Linked DNA regions of Homo sapiens. The protein of the gene in region 5 interacts with the protein of the main gene of each other region in a pairwise test. Each region holds a gene or a part of one and is shown on either strand. Other genes may lie near its edges.

Region 1 (5,871 bases), about 19 Mb from region 5:
CTCCTGCCTCAGCCTCCTGAGTAGCTGGGATTACAGGCATGAGCCACGATGCCCGGCTAATTTTTGTATTTTTATCAGAGATGGGGTTTCACCTTTTTTGTCCAGGCTGGTCTCGAACTCCTGACCTCAAGCGATCTGCCTGCCTTGGCCTCCCAAGGTAGTTGTTGTCTACTTTTAGAAGCACAATGTGGATTTTTTAATAAGTACAAAAATTCACATTTTGCAGTTACTATGGAAGATAACTAGGATATAGGGCTGGGGGTTATACTCGAGTTGAGCCCTTTAACATTTTTTTCCAACTTTTAAAAATTTGTGTATAATTTACATTAAGTAAGTACATAAATCTTAAGCATACAGCTTGATTAATTTTTTTTACACCTGTTCACCACAACCCAGATGAAGCTAGAGAACAGTTCCCACACGCCACATGCCTCCCTCAGTGTCTTCTGCTTCTCTCACCATAGATTAGTTCTGCCCGTTCGTGAACTTTATGTAAATGGAATCAAACAGTATGTACTTTTTGTGACTGACCTCTTTCATTTACATTATGTCTGTGAGAGTCATCCATATGCCTGTGTTTATTTCTCCATCATTTATTTATTGTTTGTATGTTTGTTGGTTGGTTTTAAGTGCTGGTTCTTGATTTGAGATATGTAAAGCCAGGGTGATGGGACTGAGGTAAAATGAACGTGAGCTAGGGAAGGATGGCAGTGCTGCAGGAAGATACATTCCTATGCGTGCTATGCCCAGAGGTGGGCTGTGAAGAGATACAGGCTCATCACACAACACCTGACCATGTGGGAAAACTGCCTCAGAACAGTTCATGAAAGGAAAGAAGGAGAAGGAATTTATTTGCTGACTTGTGCCTGTCTTTTGATGACCACTCAGTCAGAGTCTGCACTGTGGCAAATCATCCTCTCTTTTTAATAGAAGTAAGAATAAAATAAAGAGCAGAAGTAACCATCCAAGGACACAGAATATGGGCAAAACTTAGGATAGTGGAGTAGAAGGGGACAGAGTTTTCCTATTTGTCTCTCAGGCTTTAGCTTAGAAAGCTACATTTTACCAAGTTGACATGAAGTCCTGAAGGTCCTGGGTGTGTGTTGGGGGAGAACAAAATATATTCCTCCCACTTCTTGTGAACTCCTCTTGAGGAGAGTGGAGAAGAATAGAGTCAACCTGGAGACTTCCAGTAGCTTGAAGGCTGGTGTGAAGTCAGTGAAACATGGCCAGGTGTGGCGGCTCACACCTGTAATCCCAGCACTTTGGGAGGCAGGGAGGATTGCTTGCATCTGGGAGTTCAAGACTAGCCTGGACAACATAGTGAGATGACGTCTTTACAAAAAAAATTAAAAACTAGCTGAGTGTGGTGCTGCATGCCTGTAGTCTTAGCTACTTGGGAGGCTGAGGTGGGAGGATCACTTGAGTCCAGAAAGTCAAGGCTGCAGTGAGCCATGATTGTACCACTGCACTGCAGCCTGGGTGACAGAATGAGATCCAGAAAAGAGACTTGGCCTCTGTTCTGCTTTATCTTTCCTTCTCTCTCTTGCAAGATAAATCGGCTTCCACCTCCCTTGTACTGATCATCCCTTCTTCTTTTCTTTTTCTCAATAATCATTTTCCAAAACATGTAAACATGAAAACTTTTTTTTTTAAAAGAGCATTAGCATACCTAAAAAATAATTCCTTAATATTCCTTAATATCATCAAATATCTTGTCCTTGTCCAAACTTCCATTTTCTCATACATCTTTGTTTTTACTTATTTATTTACTTATGGTTTATTTAAGTCAGGATTCACATAAGGTCAGTTTGTGATTGGTAGATATGTCTCTTTATTTATTTTTTAAGCAATAGTTCCTTTCCCTCTCTTCTTCCCCCTTTTTAACCTTGCAATTTATTTATTAAAGAAACTGGGTCAACTCACTTGAATTTCCCATTGTGGACATTGCTAACTGCATTCCCATGGTGTTATTTGTCATGTTCCTCTGTCCTTTATGTTTTTGTCAATTAGTGTTAGATTTAGAGGTTTGATCCAATTTAGGTTCATTCTATCAATCAATCAATCATGAATCAATCATGTATCTGCCTGCCTATCTATCTATCTATCTATCTACCTATCTATCTATCTAATCTATCTATCGGTTTGATCTAATTTAGGTTCTATCCATCTACTTACCTACCTACCTACTTACCTACCTACCTAGCTATGTATCAAATCTAGCTAGCTAGCCAGAGGTTTGATCCAATTTAGGTTCAATCTATCCATCTCTTCACCTACCTACCTATCTACCTACCTACCTAATCATGTATCTTTCTTGGTAGTAGAAGGAATAATAAATCATATAGAATATTGTGTTCTTTTATCAGGGGCACATGATACCTGGTTGTCACTCTTCCTGTGATGTGACATCCATTGATGATCGTTGCCTAGATCTGTTACTTCACTAAACGGCACAAAATGATGATATTCTAATTAAATCACTTCTTTTTGAGTTATTAGCTGGAACATTCTATTAGGAAAAGTTTTCCCTCATCAATTGTTTTGTTACGCAGAGGAACAGTTAATGTAGCAAGGGCAGGATAAATGCTTGATTTTTGACCTTTATTTAAGAGGTTTTAAAATAATAAGCTGGTCTCTGTCATCCTCCAAAGGGTGACAGATGAGTTCTTTTTGGTGTGCCTTGAAATATTTAATGTGCTTTAATCCATTCCAATTAGTAGCTTTATCAATAGCCCATCTTTGGCTAGTGGAGGCCTCTTTAAGTTGAATCTCAGACCCTTTCACGTGATGCTGTCTTTGTTAGGATGCTTGCTTTATGACATGACTAGGGTTCTAGGTCCATCCCTTACACTTCCTGCCCCATACTTGGAACCGGTCATATGTATAATAAGCTTCAGAGATGTGATACTTAGAGATCATGAAGATCTGGGTGCTGTGACATATATTTATTGAACTTCAACAATGTGCTTGTGTTTGCATTCTGTTTTTCCCACTAAAATTATACTTGGGCTAATCTGTTGCTATAGGAATTTGACTAGACAGTTGAAGGGGTGACTGTGAAAGATCAGATGTCTTCCTTTTGAGTCCTGTTCAAGTTTGCTTGAACATTTGATGGGGTCCAGCTCTATTTTAAAACTTTTCCCCCCCATTTCAGCCTTTTGCTTTATTGTCGGTGTTTTCTACATTGAAATGGAAGCTTCTTTGTTTTCATTCTTTCTTTTCCTTTTTCCCCTTCGGTAGTTAACGTCCTACCTAGTGACTTTGCCTTTAGGCAAGACCTCAGGCTGTCACTGGGAGAGGAGGTTGGAAGCTCAGTTGTCAGAGTGGAGTGCTGCTGGTGGTGTATCATGTTGGTCATGGTGCCTGTGGCTAGGCCTTTCTGTTGGAAATGGATGCATGGCACCTAGGACCAAAACTTCTGCATGACTGTGGAACGCATCATCAGCCTCTGTGGCAACAGAAACTTAATGGTTAGGCTGAAAAGCAAAAGCAGAGAAAGATCCTCAGGGAAAGTACAATCCCTGGGTCAGATGGAAGATTCTATTCTAATTTAAGAGCTTTGAAAATGAAAAAATAAAATCTGAGCAGTTTATAATTTCCCTATTTTGCTTTTTTCCCTCCTCTTTCTTTCAGATGCAGTTCGAACATTAAGCAATGCCGAGGACTATCTCGATGATGAAGACTCAGATTAATTCCTTTCTGGAGCTTTGAGATCTAAAACTTCTGTTGCTTTTGCCATTCCAAAACTTTGTCTTTGCCAGAAAAGTGTTGGTAACTATAAAGAAAATTATATATGAACACGGCAGTGTTGCACTGTGTTTGAGTAGAACGTGTAAATGAATTGTTCCCACCTTTGGTTTGCCAGTAAGTGACTGGATTCTTGGCACATTTATGTTCACCAAAGTAGAACAAGAAGATATTATTTCTATTTATCAAGCAAAAGGAATTTTAAGATTTTTTTTTTTCTTTAAAAACAAATTAGGATTTTTTTTTTTTTTTTTTTTTTAGTTAAAATGCTTTACCTCAATGGTTGAGATATTTTGAATGGATTTTTCAAGGGGGGGAAATGCTTATTATAATAATAAACCAAAATACTTAACAGAAAATTGTCAGCTATTCTGACAAAAATAAACATTTTGAGAGACTTTATTTCTTTTGTCCGTTTCTGTGGTATCACTCATTGTCGTTAAGTAAGTAAAGCTTTTTATATTTAGGTAAGAACTGATTTTATTTTTTAAATTATATTTTATATTTATTAGCACAGAAGAATAATGAGAGCCACATTTTAGTTCAACTTCTTGTGTTAGCTTTGATCAAAGTCAGGACAATAATCATTGAGAAGGTGCATGTCTAATAAAATAGGTAAATTTAATAATTGTGAGACTTCCAGTTTTTATCTCCAAGGTTGTATTTAGAGTGGAGAAACCCAACAACTCATTACAGTTTCGCTAAGATTTGAAAGGTTAAAAAAATTTATTTCCTTATGATAGATGCCATACTTTTCCATATGGAGTAGTCAGGAACCATGAAATTTTTTGCATTCAGTTTTTTTAATAACATTTGTTTTCTCACAGTATGGATCTAGTTCATAATGATTCAGATTCTTTTGCTGAAACACAATTAGCATTGCAGGGAGCCTTCTGTACTACTGACATGACACTTCATTTGGCGTTCTAATTTTGTATCACTACAGTGATGATGTAAAAATGACATGGCCATTGGAATTTGCCTAGAATCCCGGCCCTAGGTCCAAAAGTATATTTTGCAAGATGATTTCAATGCTAATTTCAAAAAACACGTTGATGAAGAGAAGGAAATGTATGAAGAAGGAAGTGGGTTAGCTCAGGAAATGAATAACTGCCTCTATAAGAGTTTATTCTGTGACTGTTTGGTTTTTCACTCTGTGGGAGCCTTGAGAAACGATACCCAGAGAAGCCCATTTGAGGTCTTTCAAACACCCTCAACTAAATTTTAGTAGAAGAGAATCTGTACCACTAGTGACAACAAAGTATGAACACAAATTCTGGCACCAACAAAAGAGGGCATTTTATTCTTAAAATAAATACGTTATTAAATTTGATTTAACCAGTTGTATTTCTTCTTAAACATAAACTTGAAGATATGAAATTCTTCCTGAAATTGTATCTATTCCTATAGATCCTTTAAGATTTTTCTTTAAAATGGGGCTTGTTTCTTAACAAAAAGCTTTTAGAGAACCCTGTAACTTTTTGTTCTTCTATACTTTGGGCTGGGGTAATTAGGATGGATTTCAACTAAAGACTCTTAATTTTTAAAACATGGGCAGAAATAATACAGCTTGTGTGGCTATAGACAATTTTTATCAAAATACCATGTACTTGCTTTAGATATATTATTTGTATATCTGAGGGAAAGAATAGTGGAGGTCTCACTATCATTGTTTTTAACATTATCAAACTTAAGAGAATTTTAGAAAGTTGGACAACTATAGTTTTTTTTTGAAGATGAGGAGAGTGCTTAGCTATGTGCATGAATTTTTGGTAAAACAGGACAACTCATTTAGTTGTGGCTGAAACTCCACTGGAAATTTTTTTGGTTTGTTTCTTGTTTATTCAGCCTGGCTAATCTGAGCTTTCTCAGAGATTGTTTAGTGCTGAACTCAGCAACAAAAATCAGTTCTAGGAATTTGCCACTGCTCTGACTGTGCAGAGGAGAGCTCTGATTATGTTTTGGAAATAACTTCAGAGGTTTTGCTGTAATCTGAGCTTGCTGACAGTCACTGTGGCCTGAACTCCTTTCTAGTGATTGCACCCTTTAAATAGGAAATGCCTTCCAGCTACTTGGGCAGTGCGATACTTGTTTAGTTGTAGGCCCAGGAGCCTCATGCAA
Region 2 (5,470 bases), on a different chromosome or scaffold from region 5:
AGCCAGAGAGGGAGCGAGTGCACTGAAGAGACCTTGGTCAGTAGTGGCTTTGGGGTAGAGAAGAGAACACTGTTTATTTTTACACCTCCTGAATTGGTCAATTCTGAGTACAAACTCATCTTAACAGGAAATCGCAATGAAATATACACACCATGCACAGTCTATATTACTGTGGGAATCCAGTAATACATGCAAGACGTGGGGAAAGAATCACAATGGATGAATATGAACTTTTCACAGTGTTTCTTATAGCCTTTGACTTAACACGAGTGCATCACTTACCACCACTATCTCACAAATGTTTTACTTGTGTCCTGGGCATGCAGGTCAGTTGGGGTAAAATGTGAAATGACGCTTCATAGCCATTCTCAGACAGTGACTACAACTTCAATTTCCCCTACTTTCCAACCAAACAATTGAGCTGCTTCTGCTATAAAACTAAATATATTTCTAAATACATTTTGTTCAAGGGTTGTGCTGTATTCTTTCTCATTGTTTCAGTCACTTCATTCTAGGAAAATTAAAAACCCACACAATTAAATTGAGGACTAGGTCTTCAGGGTGATTCCTACCAAACTAGAAAGAGAGGGAATCACTAACTTCTCTTCTCTCAAGTTTCTGTCTCTCTACCCCAGGCCCTAATTGATACTGATTCATTTGTATGTTTGGTTTCCCAAAGAAGAAAACCAAATTAGAGAACTGGGATTTCTATCTTAAAGAAGCAAAACATAACCCCAAAATATAATGGTAGCAGGGAGGAGGAGAGGGGAAAATGCATTCACTCTATGTCAAAACGAATCTCTTGCTCTCAACAGGAGATAATCCAGCTTCTCCTTACCTATCATTTCATAAATTAATAATTTCTTAAAATCATAATCCAAAGAACGTATCTATTATACGAAAAGTTCAAGTTTAAAAAAGCAAATAAATTAGTTAAGCCTTGTAAACAATTGTCCATTTTAGTCATATATCTTAAAAAAAAAAAAAAGTTTCTCTGTGTAGTAAATCAGACAGTACAAGGCACACCTTATACATCCGAATCCAGACTAACAAAACCCACACAAACATCTTCTTCATTCTGCTCGCTGGGGTAACTGTGCTGGGGCATCAGAGTCACATACCAATCCTTTGCTCATCTCCTGACCATCTGGAAGTCCACAAATGTGCTCTTTCTGTTAAACTGCTTTGTGCTACTTTGTTGTGTGAAGTGATTTTAAGCTTCTTCAGTGTCAGTCTCCTCATATGTTTTCCACAAAGCTTCCTGGGAAAAGGCCAGTTTTCCCATTACGTTGTAATGTGCCTTTGAACCAGCCATCCTCTCGTTTTTTATGAACAAACACAATATCTCCTTCTTTAAGTTCAAGTTCTGCCTCACTCTGAGGAGGATAGGAAACCACCACCCTGTGCCTAGAAAAGAAAGAGATTTTGGTTAAGGCGATTCAAAGCAGTGATTTTAAAAAATGGTGTACTGTTAGTCTGCACGAACCTTCAACATAAATAGGAAATAACATTAATTCATTTATGATTGTAAAACAACTCAAAATACTGCTATTTTCTGTTTAGTAGAGACTTAGTACTAACAAAGACTGGATTTGGATATGTGTGTCAACCCACTACTGATGGCCCAGACTGGTTCATCTGAGTGACCTTAACAAGGACAGCCATCCTTGTTCCCTACCAGTGTTTGTATCTTGGCCATAAAGGAGAGTTTCATTTCATTTCCCGAGAGGGGTATCATTTCTATCCCTCCCTCTTCTCCAAGGAAACAGGAGTGAATTTATTTGATTGGTGAGACTGGGAGAAGTAGCTGAGCAGGGGGGGTTCAGTCCTCTCTGAACCGCCTGCCCACAGGCTAAGGAGGCTCTGCTCCACCTCTATGTTGTAAGCACACAGAGGTCAGGAAGGTGAGTCTGGAAGTCTGTCTCTGTGTCCCTACGTCCCTTACACTGGTGTTTGACATGGGCGAGGCAGCAATTCTGAGGAAGGTAATCTGCCCCACATACCCAGATTATCCCTTGGGAAGGTAGTCCCAAGGTCCAGACATGGAGGGGAGGGCTATGGCCACAAGTTCAATCCAACATTACCAGTAACGAGGTTGACATTCTCATCTCTATTATTCTGACATTTGGGTCTGTTTCTCCTTGGCTCAGAATTTGGAGTTAGTGGGAAAGGTGTCATTATCGCTTAAAAATGGCAGAAGCTTAGTTGGTTTAATATTATCTGTGCCCCTGCCTCCATGCTCCTTAGCCTTCCTGTGCAGAATTACAGCTTGTAGGAAACGAGAGGGAGGTGACTTGTTTTACACTCTATATCCTTTTATCTTTCTCTATTTTTCCAGCATTATTTGCATTACTCCTCTTCTCAACAAAAGGGGGGAAAAGAATGGTGGTGTATGGTAGCCAACCTCCAAGATGGCCCTAGTGATCCTTGCTTCCTGGTATTCACACTCTTGTGTAGTCTCCTCCTATGATGCACAGGATGACCTGTGTGGCCAATAAAATGTTGCAGAAATGACAGTGGGTGATTTCTGAGGCTAGATCATAAAAGGCATTATGGCTTCCACTTTACTTTCTCTTGGATCGGTCACTCAGGAAAACTGGCTGCCATGTTGTGAGGACACTCAACATCTCTATGGAGAGGAAACACATGGTAAGGCACTGAGGCCTCTTTCCAAAAGCCTAAACTAACCAGAAAAAGTGATGTGAATAAGCCATCTTAGAAGGGGATCCTCCAGCCCCAGTTGAGCATCAGCTCAGGCTGATGTCTTGACTACAATCTCAAGAAATACTCTAAGCCAGAACCAACCAGATGAGCTGTTCCATAATTATGTGACCCACAGAAAGTGTGAAATAATACATGCTTATTATTGTTTTAAGCCACTGACTTTTGGGCGTAACTGGTTACATGGCAACAGATATCTAATAAATACATCTTTCACTGTTTGATGCTAAGTAATGAGTAGTCAGTCATAAAGTTGATTTTGGGTTTCTACTTTCATTTGGTTCTCAAAGTCAGAAAATGAGTGTATAGCCTCGTGGGACCCACTCCTGACTGAAAGTGAAAAATATTATGGCTTCAAAATGATAGGCAGAACAAATTCTATACAACTGTCCCCAAACTTCTGAAACCTATTACAGCCTGCCCCTTTCACCAATTCCCATTCCATATAAACCAAAATCCATTTAAGAAAGACCACAGCAAGAGTCCCAGACTATTACACTAAAAAAACACATCTCTGCAAAAGGTAAGTGGCTGCTTGAACAACCTGAGCTCCTTTGGCACAGGGACCAAATTACTACCCAAGATCTGAAGCAAAAGCACAGCACAGAAGTTGGCTTATCATATCTGAGAAAGGTTCAGCTAATTCAAACATGAATATTCATAGACCACAAGGCTGGGGTTTGATCAAGCATGGAATGAGGAAGGAAGCATGACACAGCGGGAGAAACACTGGCCTAAGGATTGACACAGTCTTTAAGGTCAGTTAGAGCAGCTTAACTTTGGGCCAGTTATCTCAGCTCTCAGTCTGTTTCCTCATCTGTAGAATAGGACTGTAATGAGTTAAACAAGTATGATGCTCTTCGTATGGTGTCTGACAAAGAGTTCAACCTGAAAATATTAGCTCCCATTATGATCATATGGCTTAGACAAGAGTAGGCAGAGGCCTGGCACTTCAAGGAGGTGAAGAATGGGCCAGTCAGTGGCTGGACATCTCTAACTAGGAAACGAACTCAGGCCACAACTCAGGCCTCATTTCCTGAAAATGAGATTTGACAAACTTTAGATCAACACAGTTAGGGTTTTGGAATCCCTTCTTTGATATCTTTATTTTGAGACGGTCTTACTTTGTTGCCCAGGCTGGTGTGCAGTGATGCAATCACAGCTCACTGTAGCCTTGACCTCCCAGGCTTAACTGATCTTCCTACCTCAGCCTTCCGGCTGGGACTACAGGTGTGTGCCACCAAACCTGGTTAATCTTTTTACTTTTTGTAGGGATGGCATCTCACTATATTGCCCAGGCTGGTCTTGAACTCCTTGGCTCAAGCAATCTTCCAGCCTCAGCCCCAGAAAGTGCTGGGATTATAGACATAAGCCGCTATGCCCAGCTCTCTGACACCTTTAAAAGCAAGACAAATAATTTCATCATGAATTTATCTGAAAGAAGGATCCAGATGACATTTCTCAAGTCTAATGTCAACATGCTAAAAATCCATGAAAAAGCAATGATGTAGTTGCCATGTGGGGCAAGTTAAACATTTAAGGCAAAGCTTTATAATTCTGGGAAAAAATGTACAAGTGACTCAAAACATATTCAGAGTAGACTTCTCATGAGATATATTCCCTACTTGTTCTCTGTGAGCTGCCTTAAAGGTGAAATGGAATAAAAATGGTTATTGAAAAACTTGAAGTGAATTAGATTAATATATGCATTTTATAAAATGCACTAAACCAATTTTGTCAAAAAAAAATTTTGAACTAGAACTGCTGCTGGGCTAAGAACATACTCTTCCTGCCAAGTTCCCAGTGGGAGCAAATTTTCATTGCTAAGTTTTATAAACCTCTGGGGGGGCGGGTGGAATGAGAAACTATGTGCATAATGGAAACTGTGACACAGTCTTGATCGTATGAAGACTACCAGGTGCAGGAGTAATAGACTCTACTTAGAAATCTTCCAGCTCAGGTCCTGATCTTGAGCCTTGTGAGGTGGTTTGCAGTTTTCTAATACAGATTTGTAAGGCCAAATACTGGGCATAACTGGCCAACTATTTCAGGCATTGAAAGGCTTTGCCAAGTAGAACATTTACAGACCAACAAACAGATGTAAGGCACAGCTGCAGAGGCCCTTTACATCTGCTGCTCCACCCTCTGCCTCACTCGGATTATGCTTTTCTTTATATGAACAGGGGTTTGGGGAAGTTCTGAACCTCAGGGGTCAATGAATACTCTCCCATGACCTACATGGGACCTGCTGATCTACCTTCAAAATCTGCATCCCATCCACTCCTCTTCATTGTCACTGTCACTATCCTGGTTGATGACTTCATTACCTTCCACCTCGTCAAATATCTTTTTTTTTTAAGACTGAGTTTCGCTCTTGTCACCCAGGCTAGAGTGCAATGGCACGATCTCAGCTCACCACAAACTCCGCCTCCTGGGTTCAAGCAATTTTCCTGCCTCAGCCTCCTGAGTAGCTGGGATTACAGGTGTGTGCCATCATGCCCGACTAATTTTTGTATTTTCAATAGAGACAGGGTTTCAATATATTGGCCAGGCTGGTCTCTAACTCCTGACCTGGTGATCCACCCACCTTGGCCTCCTTCAAGTCTCTTCCTGTCCCCAACCCAGTCTATGCAGAGCTCACATACTAATATTCTTAAGTGGCAACTCTATTTGCAGCTACCCACTGCCAAAAAATCATTAACAGCTTTACAATGCCTGTGAGCAAGGTTAATCCTCAGCCTGGTATGCG
Region 3 (6,023 bases), on a different chromosome or scaffold from region 5:
TGGGAACACTTTGCCCTCTGCATCCCTACCATAGCACGGCTTCGGGCTGGTAGCTAGTTGTTTATGTCTAAAACTTAACCTCTGCAATCCAAGCAAGTTCCTGAAAGGAGAGCACTTTCTTTCACAGCTCTAGATCCCCCAGGCTGCCTGGGAGGCAGATGTTCGGTTCATGTCTATGGGTGGACAAGCCCAGACCAAGAGGCAGAAGAGATGCCACTGCAGCAGTAACTAGAATGTGGCCCTGGCTTGGTGTTCACAGAACGATGTTCCTAAGGAGGGGAAGGTGAATCCTGGGGCCCTTGCGCCTCACAGCACAGCTGTAACTAACTGTTTGTTAGAGAGTGCGAGACAGAAAGCCAAACAGCCAAGCTGTCGTCATCTCAGCCAAACGGTGTAGGATGCGAATCACTGATCCTGAGCCTGCGTCTCGCCTGTGCCCACGCCTCTGCCAGAAAACCATCAAGACGCTTTCCAATTCAAAGACTCAGAAGAATTAAGGCTGCGTTCATGTCGCTTCTCATTTATTAATTCAGTCTGTTCTAAGTTGTGTACAGTTATGAAAATAACAAAACCAAAGCTGGAAGCCCAGAAATATTTACACTCTCTTGGGTACTGAGGTCAGTCTATGTTGTTGCACAGATTGGTTATGTTTGGTACCTCAAAGTGTTTATAATTCAGACAAAATCAGACAGATTAACAATTTTATATACAGTAAAACAAAAGGGAAAGTCATTCAAGTATCAAAATACAGAGACAAAGATTAAATAACATTTTCATTACAGTTCAGTCCATTGCCACACCATGAGCAACAATACTTCTGAGCTGCTTTCTGCTGGCCTGGGCATCTCAAAGACAGACCCAATTCAGACTGGTTTTCTAATGTCTCTGACTGCAGCTCTGCCTGCTCCCTGCTCAAACCCGAGCATCTCGGGAACTCCCATTAGTGTCTGACGCTGGAGGGCCCAGGAGGGACGCAGAGAGCTGCACACGCAGAGCCTGTCGGGAAGGTCTTATGCGCTGAGCAGCTGGTGGGCAGGGGAGAAGAGGTGGACAAGAAGCCTGTGGCTGGGACAGGTACTGAGCCCATCTGAAGTCTCCCACCCGAATGGGCTCCTTCACAGTTCAGAAACGCAGCGACAGGGTCTGCCCCTGGTGTGACCTGCACTTGGAGAAGTGCAAAAGTAGGGGCCTTCCCACTTGAAGCCTGTCCTTAAAGTTATAATAACCTTTCTAGGAAAGGGAGACTACCCATCCCAGAGGAGAAGAAAAGAAAGAAAGGCCCAGTCATTTTCCTTTCTTGAATATTCAGAAATAAACCAATCTCTAAACAGAACCCAGAGCTAGAGCAGACTAGCCAAGGCTTCCAATATGAAAATACCCTGAATAAATAAAGATGATATAGCAGCTTCAAGCAGAAGAAACACCTATGGATGATCTAAGCACAAAAGACAGCTTGAGGAGTGCATCGTAGTGTCTGCGGTTTCTTTCGGACCTACCGCCCCGCCCCCGACAGAGGCCCACTTGGATGTGGCCTGGCCCCTTAGGAGGAAGACGGGCACCAGCATGTGCGCAGTGGCAGCGCAGTCTACTCTGGATGCTTTAGGGTTCCTGGTCAACTCTTGGAAGAAAGCCGGGGCCGAGAACTGTACAGCGGTAGCTCATGGGCATCCTCACAGGCCCTGAAAGGGGCAGGAAATGAAGTAAAACTGCAAGGTGTCGAGATCTTCGTTTAGTACCAAGAAGTGGAGGAGGGCCTGCCTCTACCGCAGAGAGAGCTGAGTCCCAGGCCCCAACCTGCTGGGTGCTTAGCAGATAGAAACCCACAAGGCCTGGCCTCTAGCCAGTCAGAGACACAGCCCCACTTCTGATTTCTGGCCAACCACATGGGTTAAGAATGTGCCTAACAGTACTCCCTGCACATACATACCAACAAAGAATTCAAATTCACAGCCTTTGCTGGCTGGGAAAGAGGAGTGTTGCTGAAGCCTGGATTATTCATCCTGGGACCTGATTGACCTATGCCAGGAAAGCTCGGAGCCTGCTAAAGTGCCCACAGGAGGAACTGGGCACACAGCTGAGCCAACTTTGCCTCTCAAATCCACAGCAGTTTCCCCTGCATTTCTACTCTAGTCCAGAGGGAAGAATGCAACCCAAGTTACTTTTAAAAACAAAGCGAGCAGCAGGAAAGCTTAAGAAGCAGAGGCGCACCGGGATGCCAGCCTGCCCCAAAGGCCACGCGGGGGAGCATCGATGCACTGTCACCTTATTTAGCCTTTTCCACACCGGGGGCCAGGGATGGGCCCAGCAGCCAAGTGTAACCGTCAAACCGATAATTCAGAGAATCAAAATGAGCCCCAATCACACAGGCTGATTAGACAAATCACAAATTGGCAAGTAGCAACCTTAGCTGACCCCACTCCAAGCATTAATGCCCCAAACAAAGCTGCTTTTCCTATTCTCTGACACAACGCAGGCAGTACGGCGCCGGCCAGCCCAGGGCAGTGCTCCGATCACTGACAGGTAAGAGGCCAGGGAGAGGCCTGGCGCTCTGGTGCTGGCTAAGACTTCCCAGCACTAGAAACTGCACACTTATCTTCATTTGGCCACTGAACCTTCCCATCGGGAACCCCAGAAATGGACCGGAAACCTTTGAGTTGCTCAGGTGCCTCTAAGGCTGTGTTCTTACGAGAAGCCTGTGTCTAGCCCCTGAAAGGGACAGGAAGTTGGGCAGTTCATAAAGAGCAGCAGCTGATATGGTTGGGTTTGAAAAGCAGACGCACCGTACTCAATTCTGCCTGAGCCTGCTCCGTTCCCCTCACCCACAGGCCACCGCCTTCTCTTCCGACCCACTGAGCTGCACCCAAGTTCCGTCCTGAGGACAGAGGCTATGCAGGCTGGCCTCTGAACCAACCTCAGCTCCCCTGTCCTCTGCCCCATGGCCATTTGTCTAAAGATTGGCAGTATGACCTAGAGGTTTGAGCCAAGTGTTAAAAGTTCATTTTATAAAAAGATTTTTTTTCTGTTAAAAACAATGTGTTCTGAACAAGTCACTTCTTGACCCTCTGGAATGCCAGTCCCATCTGCTAGCGGCCTGGAGTGCTTCTCCACAGCCAAGGCAGGGCTCGTTCTGCAGGACGTGGTGGTGGCAGGCCCAGGCCAAGTGGCCAAGAGGAGGTCCTGCAGGCGGAGGTGAGGCCTGGGTCTTCAGAGCTGCAGGTGAGGCGATGGCGGTGGTGGCAGTGGGAGCCTATGCCCCCACGTCTATGTTTCCGCAGCACAGTGTGGTTCCTCAGTGGCTCAGCTTGGCAGAAGCAAACAATGGGGGGAGGAAAGGGTTAACCAATGGGGCCTGCGGACGGTGGAGGAAATGGAAAGGAAACACAGAGCAGGACAGACGATCCCTCACAGCCTCCCCGGGGCACCCTCCATGCCTGCTTTGAGCACCCACAGCCTGCAGCCCCCACTGCCTCTGGCTCAGTGACTCTGCTCAGGAAGGCACAAGGATGGGTGGGTACGCAGGACCCACCCAGTTTATCGACTTGGGTTTTGACTGCCCTGGCCGACTGGCTTTCCTAGTGGACTCTGCTATGTGTGCACGGCTGCCTATGGGCGCCGCTTCCTTCCTGTCTCCTGCCATCCAAACTGATTTGCCCACACTGGAGAATGGGGTGCCTCTTCAAAGACTCAGCTCCACCATCCCAGCTTCTGAGCTGCTGCGATGGGACGGCCTCTCCTTTCGGAGGAGTCAGGAGGCTGAGGGAGGTGGTCAGGGGCATGCTGGACGGCGCTGTCTATCTGTGATCCCCCACCGTGGAGAGTGTCAGAAAGCTCCCAGAGGACAATGGAGGCCACTTGGTCCAGGTCCCTGTCCTCCAGCAGCTCTGTTCTGTGAGGGAAGAAGGTGCGCCGTGTGTGCAGGGCACAGGCCGCCTCCTCGTTGGTTCTACGGAAGGCCTTCCTCCTCAGTGAGCTAGACTCCAGAGCCAGGCCCAAGGCTGCCAGGCCTTGAGACTCCATGGCGAAGATAGAGGGGCTGTCCACACACATGCCACCCACCTCCTTGGAGGGGAAGGCCCATCAGGACTGAGACACCTGCTGTGTGAGCCAGCCTGTGAGTGTTCAGATACCCAGAGCCCCAAGTGGGGCAGTCAGCACGGACCCAAGGGCCTGGCGCATATCTTGGGCCCTCACAGAAAGCAGTCTGTCCCTGGTCCAGCCACATCACTGAGCTCAAGGTCTCACAAGGGCCTAGCCATGAGAGTGAGGCCAGCACCTCGGAGTAGCGGAGGACAGTGGGGTGGGGCTGCAGGCCGGCTGTGAGCAGAGTGCTGGGGACTCTGGCACTGGGTGGTCACAGTGGTTGGTTGGTTCAGGAGAGGTGAGAACAGTCAGCTAGCTCTTGGCAACGGTGCCCAGCTGTGGCTCAGTACAGCAGACAGGAGGAGGGAGCCACACAGAGCCCAGCCCAACCCTGGGGAGCTATCAGTGCCGTTGGGATCCTGCTGGAGACTGCCCTGCCCGTCGGGGTTCACAGTGCCTGCCCGTGGAGGCTTCCAGGGTGCAACAGAACCCCTGAGCCCTCTTGATGCCCACCTCAAAGGCAACTCACCCCCTCAAGCTGTCCTCAGCCCAAGGGGGAGAATTCACAGTGTTCGGTGGTGGTAGGTGCGAGAGCTGCAAGTGTACAGCGTCTACGCTGCCGCCCGCCCAAGAGGAGCAGGTCCCAGTGCAGGTGGGGCCTTGGCATCAGCAGCTGGAAGGAGAGAGTTGAGGACAGCAGAAAGATCGGATGGCAAAGGCACAGTGAGACTAGTGGAGACAGGGAGTGGGTTGTTTTAGAAGATAGTGGTCTCATACTTGGTGCTGAGGCTCCGCTTAGAGTCTGGTTTGGGGTCCACAACCCAGGAGACACTGGCATGGGATTGGGCATCTTGGTCCATATCAGGTGGTTCCAGCTGCCAAACAAGGAAGCAGTCAAGAGTCAGAGGGAGCTCTGTGCCAGGGCTGGAGGCAGCAGGCCCCTCCCACCCCCAGGCCAGGCTGTGGCCCCTGTGCTGGGAGGGGCAGCCCTTATTCTCCTCGGCCAAAGAGCAGGCCCCTGGGGGCAGGCGGAGGAGGGACACCCTCCTGGAGCATCTTGGGGAGGGCCACCTCCAGGCACAGCTTCTCTCCGGGATTTCTTGGGATTGCTCAGTTAAAGGACCCCTGTCCTAGGCGGGCCTCCTGCTCTAAGCCCCAGACCCACTCACACTGGGCAGGAAGGGGATATGGGGCTTGCAAATGTCCAGCCTCGGGTCTCTCTGGTAGGCCCAGAGAGCTCACCCCAAGGCAAGACCACAGCAGTCACCCCAGACCTCTGGAGAGAGGACACACAACAGAAAAACAGAGAGGGCTGAAGCACACACAGAACAGGCAGAGGGCATCTCAGGAAGAGGGGAAAGAATGTCACACAGGCAGAGGGAGAGGCCGCCAGAGGCTAAGAGCGCTCACGGTCACTTCGGGGAGACTGACACACAAGACAGCAGGAGGCGTAAAGACCTTGACTCCAGGACTAACAGATGGCAGCGGTAGGTAGGAAGGACGGTGGGTGGTGCAGGTGTGACAGTAACAACAGCGACTATCGGGGGGCAGCGGCACCTGGGGTGCAGAGCAAAGCAGACACAGACACAGGGATGGCGCAGTTACTGGGGGCTGCCTGCAGGCCGCTCTCTGCAGCCCCTTGACGGCCTTGCCCTTGGGGGAGCCCAGCGAGGGAGGGAAACAGGAGCATGAGAGGCCCGCCCAGGCCAGAGGAGCTGCTGCCTTTCCAGGGGCGAGACCTGGCAGGGTTGGGGGACAATTAAGAGGGTCATTTCCCTGGAGGGCCAGCTTTCTGGAAGTGCCAGAAGACCCTCCTCACGCTGACCACCCTGAGCCCTTGAATCCCTGGGGCCAGGGAGAGGGGGATCTTGGCCAGTGGGGCCCACGTACTGCGGATTTCCTCACGCCGACCCGAGGCTTAGGCACCGGTTTGGAAGATTTTG
Region 4 (5,871 bases), on a different chromosome or scaffold from region 5:
AAAAATAAAATAAAATAAGAAATACTTTTCCGAAAAATGAATGCTAGGCACTAGAGGTGTCTCCTGCTTTTGCTAGAGGCACTGGATATAAAAGGGGGAAACTTCTAGCTGGGGGTAGTGGCTCACACCTGTAATTCCAGCACTTTGGAAGGCCGAGGTGGGCAGATCACGAGGTCAGGAGGTCGAGACCAGCCTGACCAACATGGTGAAACCCCGTCTCTACTAAAAATACAAAAATAAGCCAGGCATGGTGGCGCGCGCCTGTAATCCCAGCTACTCGGGAGGCTGAGGCAGGAAAGTTGCTTGAACCTGGGAGGTAGAGGTTGCAGTCAGCCATGATCAAGCCACTGCACTCCAGCCTAGGCAACAGAGCGAGACTCCATCTCAAAAAAAAAAAAAAAAAAAAAAAAAAGGGAAACTTCCAGCATCTCCTTGGGATGTTTGAACAGGAATCTCAGTAAACACACCCAAAATTGAACTCCTGATCTCCTCTACCTGCCTCAAACTTGTTTTCCCCCAGTCTCTGCCATCACAGCCAGCAACACAGATCAGAACCCCCCATCCTCAGTCCTTCCTCCAGGCCATCACCACATCTTGCTATTTCTGCTGGCCACTGCCGGCCTCAGACTCAGACCATAACAGAGGCAGGTAGATACACAGAAGACATCCCATGCAGGCCACTGGCTCTCTCCACCAACACCAACACCCCCAAAAATCAACCCCTGGACAGGCGCAGTGGCTCACACCTGTAATGTCAACATTTTGGGAGGCCAAGATGGATGGATTATTTGAGCCCAGAAATTCAAGACCGGCCTGGGCAAAAGAGTGAGACCCTGTCTCTACAAAAAAATCAAAGAATTAGCTGAGTATGATTGTGTGCCTGTAGTCCCAGCTTCTTGGGAGGCTGAGGCAGGAGGATCACTTGAGCCCAAGACTTTAAGACTGCAGTGAGCCATGATTGCACCACTGCACTCCAGCCTGGGTCAGGGTTGTCTTTTAAGAAGTCGTCTTTAATGGCTTTCTCTTAGGCCTGGAGTAACAAAATGCAAACTCTTTTCCATGGTCTTTAGTGACCCACATGCTCTGAGTCTCAGTAATCCCCATAACCCTACCTTGTGCCCATCTCCTCCTTGCTGGGCACTTTGCACTGTTGCAAGGTCGGCCTTCTTTAAGTCCCTCAACATGCCAAGCGTTCCCAGCCTTAGGACCTTCATGAACGCTACTCCATCTAGCGAAGATGGACATCTCCCTGCCCATCAAACACCTTCAGCCCCACCTCCCTGGAGGAGCCTTCTCTGATGACCTCACCTATGGGATTCCCACCTACTATTGTGTAGTACCTGTGGGTTCCTGGTTCCTTCAGAACACTAAATCTCATCTCCACCCAACAAAGAAAGTCCCAGAGGGCGGAGAATCTTTATTCACCACTGGGTACTTCGTATCCAGTGTCCAGCACACAGTAGCTGCTCAAACAGCAGTTAAGTCTGTATCTAGGCCAAACACGGTGTCTCACGCCTGTAATCCCAACACTTCGGGAGGCCGAGGCCGCGGATCACTTGAGATCAGGAGTTTGAGTCCAGCCTGGCCAACACGGTGAAACCCTGTCTCTACCAAAAATACAAAAATTTGCCAGGCCTCATAGCTCATGCCTGTAATCCAGCTACTCGGGAGGCTGAGGCAGGAGAATCGCTTAAACCAGGGAGGCGGAGTTTGCAGTGAGCCAAGATCACACCATTGCACTCCAGCCTGGGCGATAGAGTGAGACTCAGTATGAAAAAAAAAAAAAAAAAAAAAAAAACTCTGGGCCGGGCACAGTGGCTCACACCTGTAATCCCAGCACTTTGGGAGGTCAAGGCGGGCGGATCACGAGGTCAGGAGTTCGAGACCAGCCTGGCCAACATGGTGAAACCCGTTTCTACTAAAAATACAAAAATTAGCCAGGCATGGTGGCAGGCGCCTGTAATCCCAGCTAGCCAGGAGGCTGAGGCAGGAGAATGGCTTGAGCCTGGGAGGTGGAGGTTGCAGTGAGCCGAGATCATGCCATGGCACTCCAGCCTGGGCGATAACAGCAAGACTCCATCTCAAAAAAAAACAAAAAGTCTGTATCTGGGCAAGAAAAATAAGTCCTTTCAATGTGTCTAGTTTATAAACCCATTTAATTCATATTTACTGGTTCTATATTTTAGTAAATAATTACCACCAGCTCCCTCTATATAGTATATTACCAAAGACAAGTCTAATTTAACATTTATATGCTATTCATTTTTTCTTTTCTTTAAAAAATTTTTTTTAATAGAGAAGGGTTTTCGCCATGTTGCCCAGGCTGCTTTTTAACTCCTGGGCTCAAGCAATCCACCCACCTCAGTCTCCCAAAGTGCTGGGATTACAGGCGTGAGCCACTGCACCCGGCCCCCCTATTCATTTCTAATGTCCCATTCAGTGCATATGATAAGAAATAAGATGATTTGCAGAAAGAACTATGAACATTAGCTCTTTGTTTATTAGGCATAATTTGTCTGTGTATTTTTTGAACTCCTCAACAAATTGTGATGATGTCTTCCAAATCAATTTAGAAGGAAACAAACAAAAAAAAAAAACCCAAAATCCAAATAATTCTAAATCAGCCACAAACCATGACTGACAATAGTCAGAAATAACTAAATCCAGGCTCTTCATCTACCCTCAGCAGACTTTATGTACTATTGCCTTTTTTTTACTGCAAAGAACCTTCCTGGAGTCTGTACTACCTTCAAGATGGTTTTAGGGTCCCCAAGCCTAGTAGCCACAGGATTCTAACAGCAACTGAGGAAGCCTTTTTCAGTGAATTATGGATCTAAACAAGGCAAATGAACGCAGAGAGGGAACTGTGCCTCCAAAGGCCACGAAAAGCAATTTTGCCAAACCTAGGTAATTGTCCAAAGGAGAGAACGAAGCCAGGGCTAGCAAACAAACATGACAGATCAGAGAATTGTTTTGCCACTTTGTAAAGGCAAGATCAAGTATTTGTACAAAGGTTCTGGGGAAAAATTAAAGACTCAAACAATGACTCTAGCACTTCCGTTTCATGCCAGGTCAAGACAAAAATACCTAATTGAGCTCTGCAGCTGAGAACAATCTAAATGGAATCCTGTAGCAGCAATTGGCACTTGTGGAAACCTCAAAGGTGAAAAGAGATAGTTAAGAAAATTTGTCTTGACAGTTACTTTCAGAAAATCATTAATTATAATTAAATGACAGTAGAAAAGGTGATAAACAATATAGTAACATAAGTCAGTCAAGTGTAATTATCTGTAGGGCATGCGATTCACAAAATGGTTCAAACAGAGGGCTACACATTTAGATGTAAATCACAAAAAGATTGCCAAAGAGGAGGCTTTGATTTGGAAACAGGGAAGCTCTGAAATGGGGAAGTGCTGAAACGATTGCGACATCCCCACATTTGGCCCTGCCTTGCACGTTACTTAGTCATCAGCCTCCATCAAGGACTTGTGGTGGCAGAGAAAATAAACCACAGAAAACATGGCAGCCTCCTGGGAGAGGTCTGGGAGAAAACCCATGCTCATTCAGAAAGGTATGTTCGTGGTTGTATTTCGAGTAAAACGCATTCAGTCACGCTTGAAATGTGTAAAAGCCTGTGTGTCTTATTCATTTATTCAACAAGTATTTATGGAGCACCTACTCTGTGGCAGACGCTCCTCTAATGTGCTTGGGATACACCAATGAATGAAGTAGACATTCTAGTCAGGGAGAGACAGATAATAGGTCACACAATTACATAGTATGCTACAAAGCGATAAATACCAGAGAGAAAGCAGGGTAGTGAGACAGAGGATGCGGGCAGGAAGGAGGAATTGCTGTTTTAACCTGGAGGAGGCAGAGCAAAGACTTGAAGGAGGTGAAGGAGTGAAGCATGGAGATGTCTGGGGATGATGGTTCAGGCATCGGGGCAGCCAGTGCAAAGGCCCTGTGGTATGAATGTGCTGGGCACACCCCATCAAGAAAAGGAGTGTGGTTAAAGCAGAGGAAGTAAGGATGTGTGTGGTAGCAGGCGAGGTTAAAGAGGTGATGGGACTAGAAATAAAGTCATTCACTGGCTTTTGAGTGAGATAGAGAAGCTCTAGAAAGTTTTCGGCAGGGGACTGACACGAGCTGACTTCTGTTTTAAAAAAGTCACTCTGGCCAGGTGAGGTAGCTCACACCTGCAATCCCAGCACTTTAGGAGGCCAAGGTAGGCAGCTCGCTTGAGGCCAGGAGTTCGAGACCAGCCTGGCCAACATGGTGAAACTCCATCTCTACTAAAAACACAAAAATTAGCCAGGCATGGTGGTGCATGTCTGTAATCCTAGCTACTCAGGAGGCTGAGGCAGGAGAATCACTGGAGCCTGGAAGGCAGAGGTTGCAGTGAGCTGAGATCGTGCCACTGCACTCCAGCCTGGGTGACAGAGTGAGACTCCATCTCAAAAAATAAAAGAGTCACTCTGGATACTGGGTTAAGAAAGGAGTGTGCGGGGAGAGCGGTGAGGACAAAGGTGGAAGCAGGGGAGCAGATAAGCAGATTCTGCAGACGTATCCACCCTTCCGTGACTAGCTCTAGCCAATGGAGAAAGGGCAAGACCTTTCATACATGACCAGGGTGTATGAGAACATGGGTGTTACCATTTAATTTCAGGGTCTGTGTGCCTCCTGCAGTTCCCACCGGAGAAGTGACTCCTAGGTTTCAGGCTGGGCTTGTCCGTATCATATGAGCTGGCAGTTTCTGTTTACTCATTGGCAAACTGACATATACCTTGAGGTAGATGCTGGAGCCCACAATGTGGAGCAAAAAGCAAAGGAGGTCCCTGGGCCAAACTACTGTTTGCACCAAATGGGAAGGGCTAACTTGTTATTGGATTTCTCTTTGCTCTGCAAATAGGATTTCACTAGAGGCAATTCTTCTAATACTTCTTCAGCCACCTGTCCTTCCTCATCTCTTTTCTTAGTAACTAAGAGTACACTGTCAGCCCACCAGAAAAGCCACACTGCTGTGATTCATTGATATTCACCTGATACTGCCCTTTCACTCTTGGATTTCTTGGTTGACCCTCCGTATTTTTTAGAGGTGAGATCTCACTATGTTACCCAGGCTGGAGTGCAGTGGCTAGTCACAGGCGCAATCATAACGTACTAAAGCCTTGAGCGCCTGTCATCCAGCGACGCTCCTGCCTCAGCCTCCCAAGTAGCTGGGACCACAGGCATGAACCACCACGCTCAGCTCTTCACTCTCCCTAATTTTGAGAAAACATACTTTTTTCCTTCTAGTAATGACCTAATAAGTTTTTTCTAATTACGAAAAAATGCACTTTTTTCCTCCTCATCATTGCTTATTGGCAACTCTCAGCCTTTTAAAGGATATTAAATAGCAGACAAAGAGGTATAAACTTGTTTGTTTGTTTGTTTGTTTGTTTGTTTTTTAGATGGAGTCTTGCCCTGTCAAGGCTGGAGTGCAGTGACGCAATCTCGGCTCACTGCTACCTCCGCCTCCCGATCTCAAGGGATCCTCCCACCTCAGCCTCCCTGGTAGCTGGGATTACAGGCGTGTACCACCACGCCTGGCTAATTTTTGTATTTTTTGTAGAGATGGGGTTTTGCCATGTTGCCTAGATTGTTCTCAAACTCCTGGGCTCAAGTGATCTGCATGCCTTGGTCTCCAAAAGTGCTGGGATTACGGTGTGAGTGACCAAGCCTGGCCCAGATTAATTTATTTAATCCTTATAATAACCCTGTGAGGTAGGCATTTTACAGTTGGGGAAACTGAGTCACAGAGTTTTCTTTTTTAGTTAGCCTGCCTAAAGTCACATGTAAGTGGCAGAACTAAGATTGGAACCAAGGCAG
Region 5 (5,871 bases):
CGTCAGTTCAGGTAGCTGTTGGCTTTGATTTAACAGGGGTGGGGGCAGAATGGGGAAGTTCAGGCAACACAGGGCCTGGGTTTCCTGAGTTGTTCTGAATTGTTTGCCCTTTGGTGGAAGCTCAGGTCTTCAGACCCACTTCCTCTCGTCAGCTAGCTCATGGCCCGTCCTCTGTACTTTGTGTTACTGTGGAGGTGAAGAATTTGCTCCTGTTCCATTTATACTACCTCATGAACGGGCGACAGGTGTGGATTCTTGCTGGTTCTCAGTGGAAGGCTCTGAAAAGGCTGGTTTCCTTTTCAGTAGAGGAAGGAGAGTAGCGCACAAATAGGAAGACAGTCCTATTATTATTATTATTCAAACTAGGATGTGTGTCCTGACTGATGAGGTGCATGTGCTGTATCCCTTATTCCCCTTGGCTAGAGACTGCATGAGGTCCTAGTGAACAGGGATGAGTTCCAGACAACTCTGCCTCACCTGGCCTGTGGCCCAAGAACCCCTGGTTCTTCGTTGGTCCCTATGTTCAGTTACTGGGAGCTCAAAGGAGAAGGACCAGAGATGGGCTCCCTGTCCCACTATTTAGTGTAACATGACTAGCAGCTGTGAAAATCCCTGGCCGGGCGCGGTGGCTCACGCCTGTAATCCCAGCACTTTGGGAGACCAAGGCATGTGGATCACGAGGTCAGGAGTTCAAGACCAGCCTGACCAATATGGTGAAACCCCGTCTCTACTAAAAATACAAAAATTGGCTGGGCATGGTGGCGGGCGCCTGTAATCCCAGCTACTCAGGAGGCTGAGGCAGGAGAAGTGCTTGAACCTGGGAGGCAGAGGTTGCAGTGAGCTGAGATCGCACCACTGCACTCCAGCCTGGGTGACAGAGCGAGACTCCGTCTCAAAAAAAAAAAAAAAGAAAAAAAAGAAAATCCCTAGACACCTCCCCTGATAGCCCTGCTGCTCACCATTTGCTGGCTGTGTTCTAGTCATGTGCAGCTGTTGCTGGCTACACAATGACAATATCTCAGGGGACTCCACCACTGCTTCTCAGATCTGCTCCCTGGGAACTGAGCTTCCTGAGTGGCAGCTGGGACCACTGAGCACTGAGGAATGGGTGGCCTGAATCTGACCCCTATTTAACACTTGTGTGGGTGGTGCCAGGACAATCACTTGCATGCTGGGCGTGATGTGTTATGGGTTATCTTCAGGGTTCCTAGGGCACTGGCTTGGGTGAGTTTCCATCCAGTGGTTTTCTTTTTTTTTTTTTTTTTTTTTTTTGAGACGGAGTCTCGCTCTGTCACCCGGGCTGGAATGAAGTGGCACGATCTCGGCTCACTGCAGCCTCTGCCTCCTCGGTTCAAGCAATTCTCCTGTCTCAGCCTCCTGAGTAGCTGGGATTACAGGCACGCACCATCAGCTAATTTTTGTATTTTAGTAGAGACGGGGTTTCACCACGTTGGCCAGACTGGTCTTCAACTCCTGACCTCAGGTGATCCACCCGCCTGGGCCTCCCAAAGCGCTGGGATGACAGGCATGAACCAGCACGCCCGGCCTATCCAGTGGTTTTCTTTTGTTGTGTTGAGCTAGGAAAGAAAGGGGTTTACAAGAGCTTCAGGGAAAGGAAGACTGAAGAGGAGATGGGGCCATAATATTCGGAAACTTCTGGTTTCCTGTCGGCCTTCTGAATGCCGAGCACTGCCCTGGGGTAGGCCCCTCACCTGCTGCTGAGCACACTGAGAGCCACCAAGCCACCGAGAGACTCATCCCTGACCCATGGCTTGGGAGATGCCTGTGAGGCTGGTGCAGTCTGCCAGGGACACCCGAGGGAGACCCTCAGAGACAGCAAAGGCTTGGCTGTTTCTTCTTGGCAGACAAGGGTCAGGGAGTCTTGGTGACTGGCGCCAGGCTCTCTAGTGGAGCGACTCTGCCGTGGAGGAACAGAGCATCTGATGCACACTCAGGGACACTTGCAAGCTGCAGAGTTTCCCTGTCACATGCCCTCAGCTGTTGGGACTCCCCTGATTCCCCAGTGACTAGTGTGGACCTGGAGACGCCAGCTCATTCACCTCTTTCCTTTGTCTCCACAGCATACCCAGTGCTGGGACCCGGCGTGACCGTGAACCCTGGCACCTCCCTGTCTGTGTTCACGGCTCTGCCCTTTGCCACACCCGCTCCCGGCCCAGCACACAGGCCGCCCCTCGTGACTGCAGTGGTTCCTCCAGCCGGCCCTCTGGTGCTCTCTGCCTTCCCCAGCACCCCTCTAGTGGCAGGACAGGATGGCCGCGGCCCGAGTGGGGCCGGGGCTTCCAACGTCTTTGTCCAGATGAGGACAGAAGTGGGGCCTGTGAAGCCCCCTCAGGCACAGACCTTGATCCTAACTCAGGCCCCCCTCGTCTGGCAGGCTCCAGGCACCCTCTGTGGAGGTGTCATGTGTCCACCTCCCCTACTCCTGGCAGCTGCTCCTGGGGTGCCCGTTACCTCTGCCCAGGTGGTTGGGGGCACCCAGGCCTGTGAGGGAGGCTGGTCCCATGGCCTTCCTCTTCCACCACCACCACCGGCTGCCCAGGTGGCCCCCATCGTGTCCCCAGGGAACGCTAGGCCATGGCCACAAGGGGCTCATGGAGAGGGCAGCCTGGCTCCCTCCCAGGCCAAGGCCCGGCCGGACGACTCCTGTAAACCCAAGAGTGTCTATGAGAACTTCCGACTCTGGCAGCACTACAAGCCCCTGGCCCGGAGGCACCTTCCCCAGAGTCCTGACACTGAAGCGCTTTCCTGCTTCCTCATGTGAGTGTCCTCGGGGCGCCGGAGCTTGTCCTGCAGCTCACTCATAAAGAGGCTGCTGGATGGACAGGAGGTCACACTGTTCAGGGGAGCTTGCAGGGCGGTTGTGAGGGTGATGGGTTGTGCTATGGGAAGGTACGTTTTCAGCAACATTAATCTGGCTGCGGCTCAGGACAGACTGTCAGGGGCCTCACGTCAACTGCCTGTCACTGTCCCGTGAGTCCAGCCAATCCTTAATTTTTTTTTTTTTTTTGAGATGGACTTTCACTCTTGTTGCCCAGGCTGGAGTGCAATGGCGCGATCTCAGCTCATCACAACCTCCGCCTCCCGGGTTCAAGTGATTCTGCTGCCTCAGCTTCCTGAGTAGTTGGGATTACAGGCATGTGCCACCATGCCTGGCCAATTTTGTATTCGTAGAGATGGGGTTTCTCCATGTTGGTCAGGCTGGTCTTGAACTCCCGACCTCAGGTGATCTGCCCGCCTCAGCCTCTCAAAGTGCTGAGATTACAGGCATGAGCCATCATGCCCCGCCCCAATACTTACTTTCTTTTCTTTTCTTTTCTTTTTTTTTTTTTTTTGAGATGGAGTCTCACTCTGTCGCCCAGGCTGGAGTGCAGTGGCGCGATCTTGGCTCACTGCAAGCTCTACCTCCCAGGTTCACGTCATTCTCCTGCCTCAGGCTCCCGAGTAGCTGGGACTACAGGTGCCCACCACCATGCCCGGCTAATTTTTTTGTATTTTTAGTAGAGACGGGGTTTCACCATGTTAGCCAGGATGCTCTCAATCTCCTGCCCTGGTGATTCGCCCGCCTCGGCCTCCCAAAGTGCTGCGATTGCAGGCATGAGCCACCGTGCCTGGCTTTCACTTTCAATAATTTTCACAACAATGTTTACAGAAGACCCAGGTCAGAGAGCGTTCTTGGTGTGACATGAGCCACGGTTAGGGTTTAGGTCTTTTTTGTTTGTTTGTTTGAGATGGAGTCTCGCACTGTCACCCAGGCTGGAGTGCAATGGTGAGATCTTGGCTCACCGCAACCTCTGCCTCCTAGGTTCAAGCGATTCTCCTGCCTCAGCCTCCCAAGTACCTGGGCTTACAGGCGCCCGCCACCATGCCCAGCTAATTTTTTGTATTTTTTAGTAGAGACGGGGTTTCACTATGTTGAGCAGGCTGGTCTTGAACTCCTGACTTTGTGATCCACCCGCCTCAGCCTCCCAAAGTGCTAGGATTGCAGGCGTGAGCCACCGCACCCACCCTGGGTTTAGGTCTTTGAGTGTACACCCCAGTGCCTTCCCTCGAACTGAGTGTCAATGGCCAGGGGCACATCACATGGGGCTGGGGGGAGGAGCTGCAGGGCCCAGCAGGAACCTGGCACACACCCACACTGTTCTGCCGCGGTCCAGTTAGCACAGCGGTGGTGGAGCCTGCACAGGGGGATGGTCTTGGGACCCGCACTAGGGTCGATGCTGGGCAGGTATTAGCATCTTCACCGTCAATCCCCCCTAGAAAAAAGGACAATGGTGTTTCATTCAGAGGATGGCAAAGAGATGACCTGAGCTCACATATGACATACGTAGCACAGTGCCTGGCACATACTATGACACATTACATGACAGCAGTTATGATTACTGTCCCCATTACTACCATTATCAGGACTAGGCCATCTAGGAGAGTGCTCCCCAAAGCCACGGGCTCCAGTGATAGCTCTGAGTGCACCACGAGCCCAGCAGCCCAGAGCCGTGGACTGTGGTGACTGTGAGGCAGCAACATCAGCATCTGGGAGAGTTTGTGGTTTCATTCCCAGTCCCTGCCTCTCTCCACCCCGCGGCACCTCTGTGACCCTGTGTTTCCCGCTGATGAGCAAACAGGAGCTTGAGCATATCCACCGTGCAACACACTGGCCATTCCCCTAGGGGAGTCCCCTGCCTGGGGTGTAGGTGAAGGCGGCCCCGTCTTCCTCCCCAACAGTCTCGCTGCCCCCACACCCTGGAACTGGTTGCATCCCCCCTTGGAGCGGAGTCCCGGTGCACTGGGGACCCTGATTCTTGGAGTGTAGCCGCCCCGGGCTCACAGGCCTTTGCCTTGGCTCCTGTGGGAATGTGGGAAGCTGTGCCTGGCTGCTTGCAGTGGCTTGGACACCGCTCTGCTTTGGTTCTGGACGTGTGCTCCTGCTCCTCAAGCTCCAGGACCCTGAGGCTGTGTCCCCAGGGGCTGCCTTGCTCCAGAGTCCCCAGGAAGCTGGTTAAATGCTCAGTCCTGTGGCCCAGGAACCTGCACTTTAACCCTCGCTCCCAGGTCATTCTGTGTGCATGGTGTCTCAGTCAGCTCAGGCTCTGCCGTAACGAATCCCATAGACTGGGTGCTTTATCAAGACACATTCATGTCTCCTAGTTCCAGAGGCCAGAAGTCCCAGATCAAGGTGACAGCGGATTGGGTGTCTGGTCAGGGCCCTCTTCCTGGCTGGAGAGAGCTGCCTCTGGCTGTGTGCTCTTGTGGCTGAGAGCAAGAGCCCTGGTGTCTCCTCCTGCCCTTATCAGAGCTCGGATTCCATGACTGGGACCCACGCTCATGACCTGCTCTAACCCTGATTGCCTCCAAATACTGACACACTGACACTGAGGGCTTCAGCACAGGAATGTTGGGGACACACATGTTCCACCCATAGCACTGAGTTCGCTTGTCAACATCATAACACCGAGGACTTGAGAGGCAGTCGGAGAGGCCACTCAGTGGCTTCTATTGATGTTGGATCTTGGGGGTGTGTCCTGGAGGCTGAGGAGCCCACATGGGGGAGAACAGGACAGGGACAGATGGCAGGACAGGTGTGGGGAGGACAGGAGCCAGGTGTTGGGACCAGGTGGGCCCGGGATGGAGGGTGGGCTTACAGACTGGGACTGACTGCACTGGTTTACAGCCCAGTTCTCCGATCCCTGGCCCGGCGGAAGCCCACCATGACGCTGGAGGAGGGACTGTGGCAGGCCATGCGGGAATGGCAGCACACGAGCAACTTTGACCGGATGATCTTCTACGAGATGGCGGAAAAGTGAGTCTGGGGTCCTGGGGGCAGGGCCCGTGTGGCGGGGTGAGAGTGAATGACAG

The links.
Region 1: the proteins of NUTM2F (region 5) and OSTF1 interact in a two-hybrid assay, tested with the Homo sapiens proteins (one large-scale study listed by BioGRID).
Region 2: the proteins of NUTM2F (region 5) and SH3RF1 interact in a two-hybrid assay, tested with the Homo sapiens proteins (one large-scale study listed by BioGRID).
Region 3: the proteins of NUTM2F (region 5) and ANKS1A interact in a two-hybrid assay, tested with the Homo sapiens proteins (one large-scale study listed by BioGRID).
Region 4: the proteins of NUTM2F (region 5) and RBM47 interact in a two-hybrid assay, tested with the Homo sapiens proteins (one large-scale study listed by BioGRID).

What each region holds. Positions count from the first base shown.
Region 1 is NC_000009.12:75,143,047-75,148,917, forward strand, and holds the end of OSTF1 (osteoclast-stimulating factor 1), read left to right. Parts: intron 1-3,636; coding exon 3,637-3,695; 3' UTR 3,696-4,219; downstream 4,220-5,871.
Region 2 is NC_000004.12:169,095,281-169,100,750, forward strand, and holds part of SH3RF1 (E3 ubiquitin-protein ligase SH3RF1), read right to left. Parts: intron 1,408-5,470; coding exon 1,239-1,407; 3' UTR 1-1,238. UniProt on the Homo sapiens protein: Has E3 ubiquitin-protein ligase activity. In the absence of an external substrate, it can catalyze self-ubiquitination. Stimulates ubiquitination of potassium channel KCNJ1, enhancing it's dynamin-dependent and clathrin-independent endocytosis.
Region 3 is NC_000006.12:35,085,884-35,091,906, reverse strand, and holds the end of ANKS1A (ankyrin repeat and SAM domain-containing protein 1A), read right to left. Parts: coding exon 5,971-6,023; intron 4,956-5,970; coding exon 4,858-4,955; coding exon of another isoform or gene 4,836-4,857; exon of another isoform or gene 3,308-4,835; intron 3,302-3,307; coding exon 3,298-3,301; 3' UTR 501-3,297; downstream 1-500. UniProt on the Homo sapiens protein: Regulator of different signaling pathways. Regulates EPHA8 receptor tyrosine kinase signaling to control cell migration and neurite retraction.
Region 4 is NC_000004.12:40,618,423-40,624,293, forward strand, and holds part of RBM47 (RNA-binding protein 47), read right to left. Parts: intron 1-5,871. UniProt on the Homo sapiens protein: Single-stranded RNA-binding protein that functions in a variety of RNA processes, including alternative splicing, RNA stabilization, and RNA editing. Functions as an enzyme-substrate adapter for the cytidine deaminase APOBEC1.
Region 5 is NC_000009.12:94,322,145-94,328,015, reverse strand, and holds part of NUTM2F (NUT family member 2F), read left to right. Parts: intron 1-2,081; coding exon 2,082-2,778; intron 2,779-4,013; exon of another isoform or gene 4,014-4,274; intron 4,275-5,686; coding exon 5,687-5,815; intron 5,816-5,871.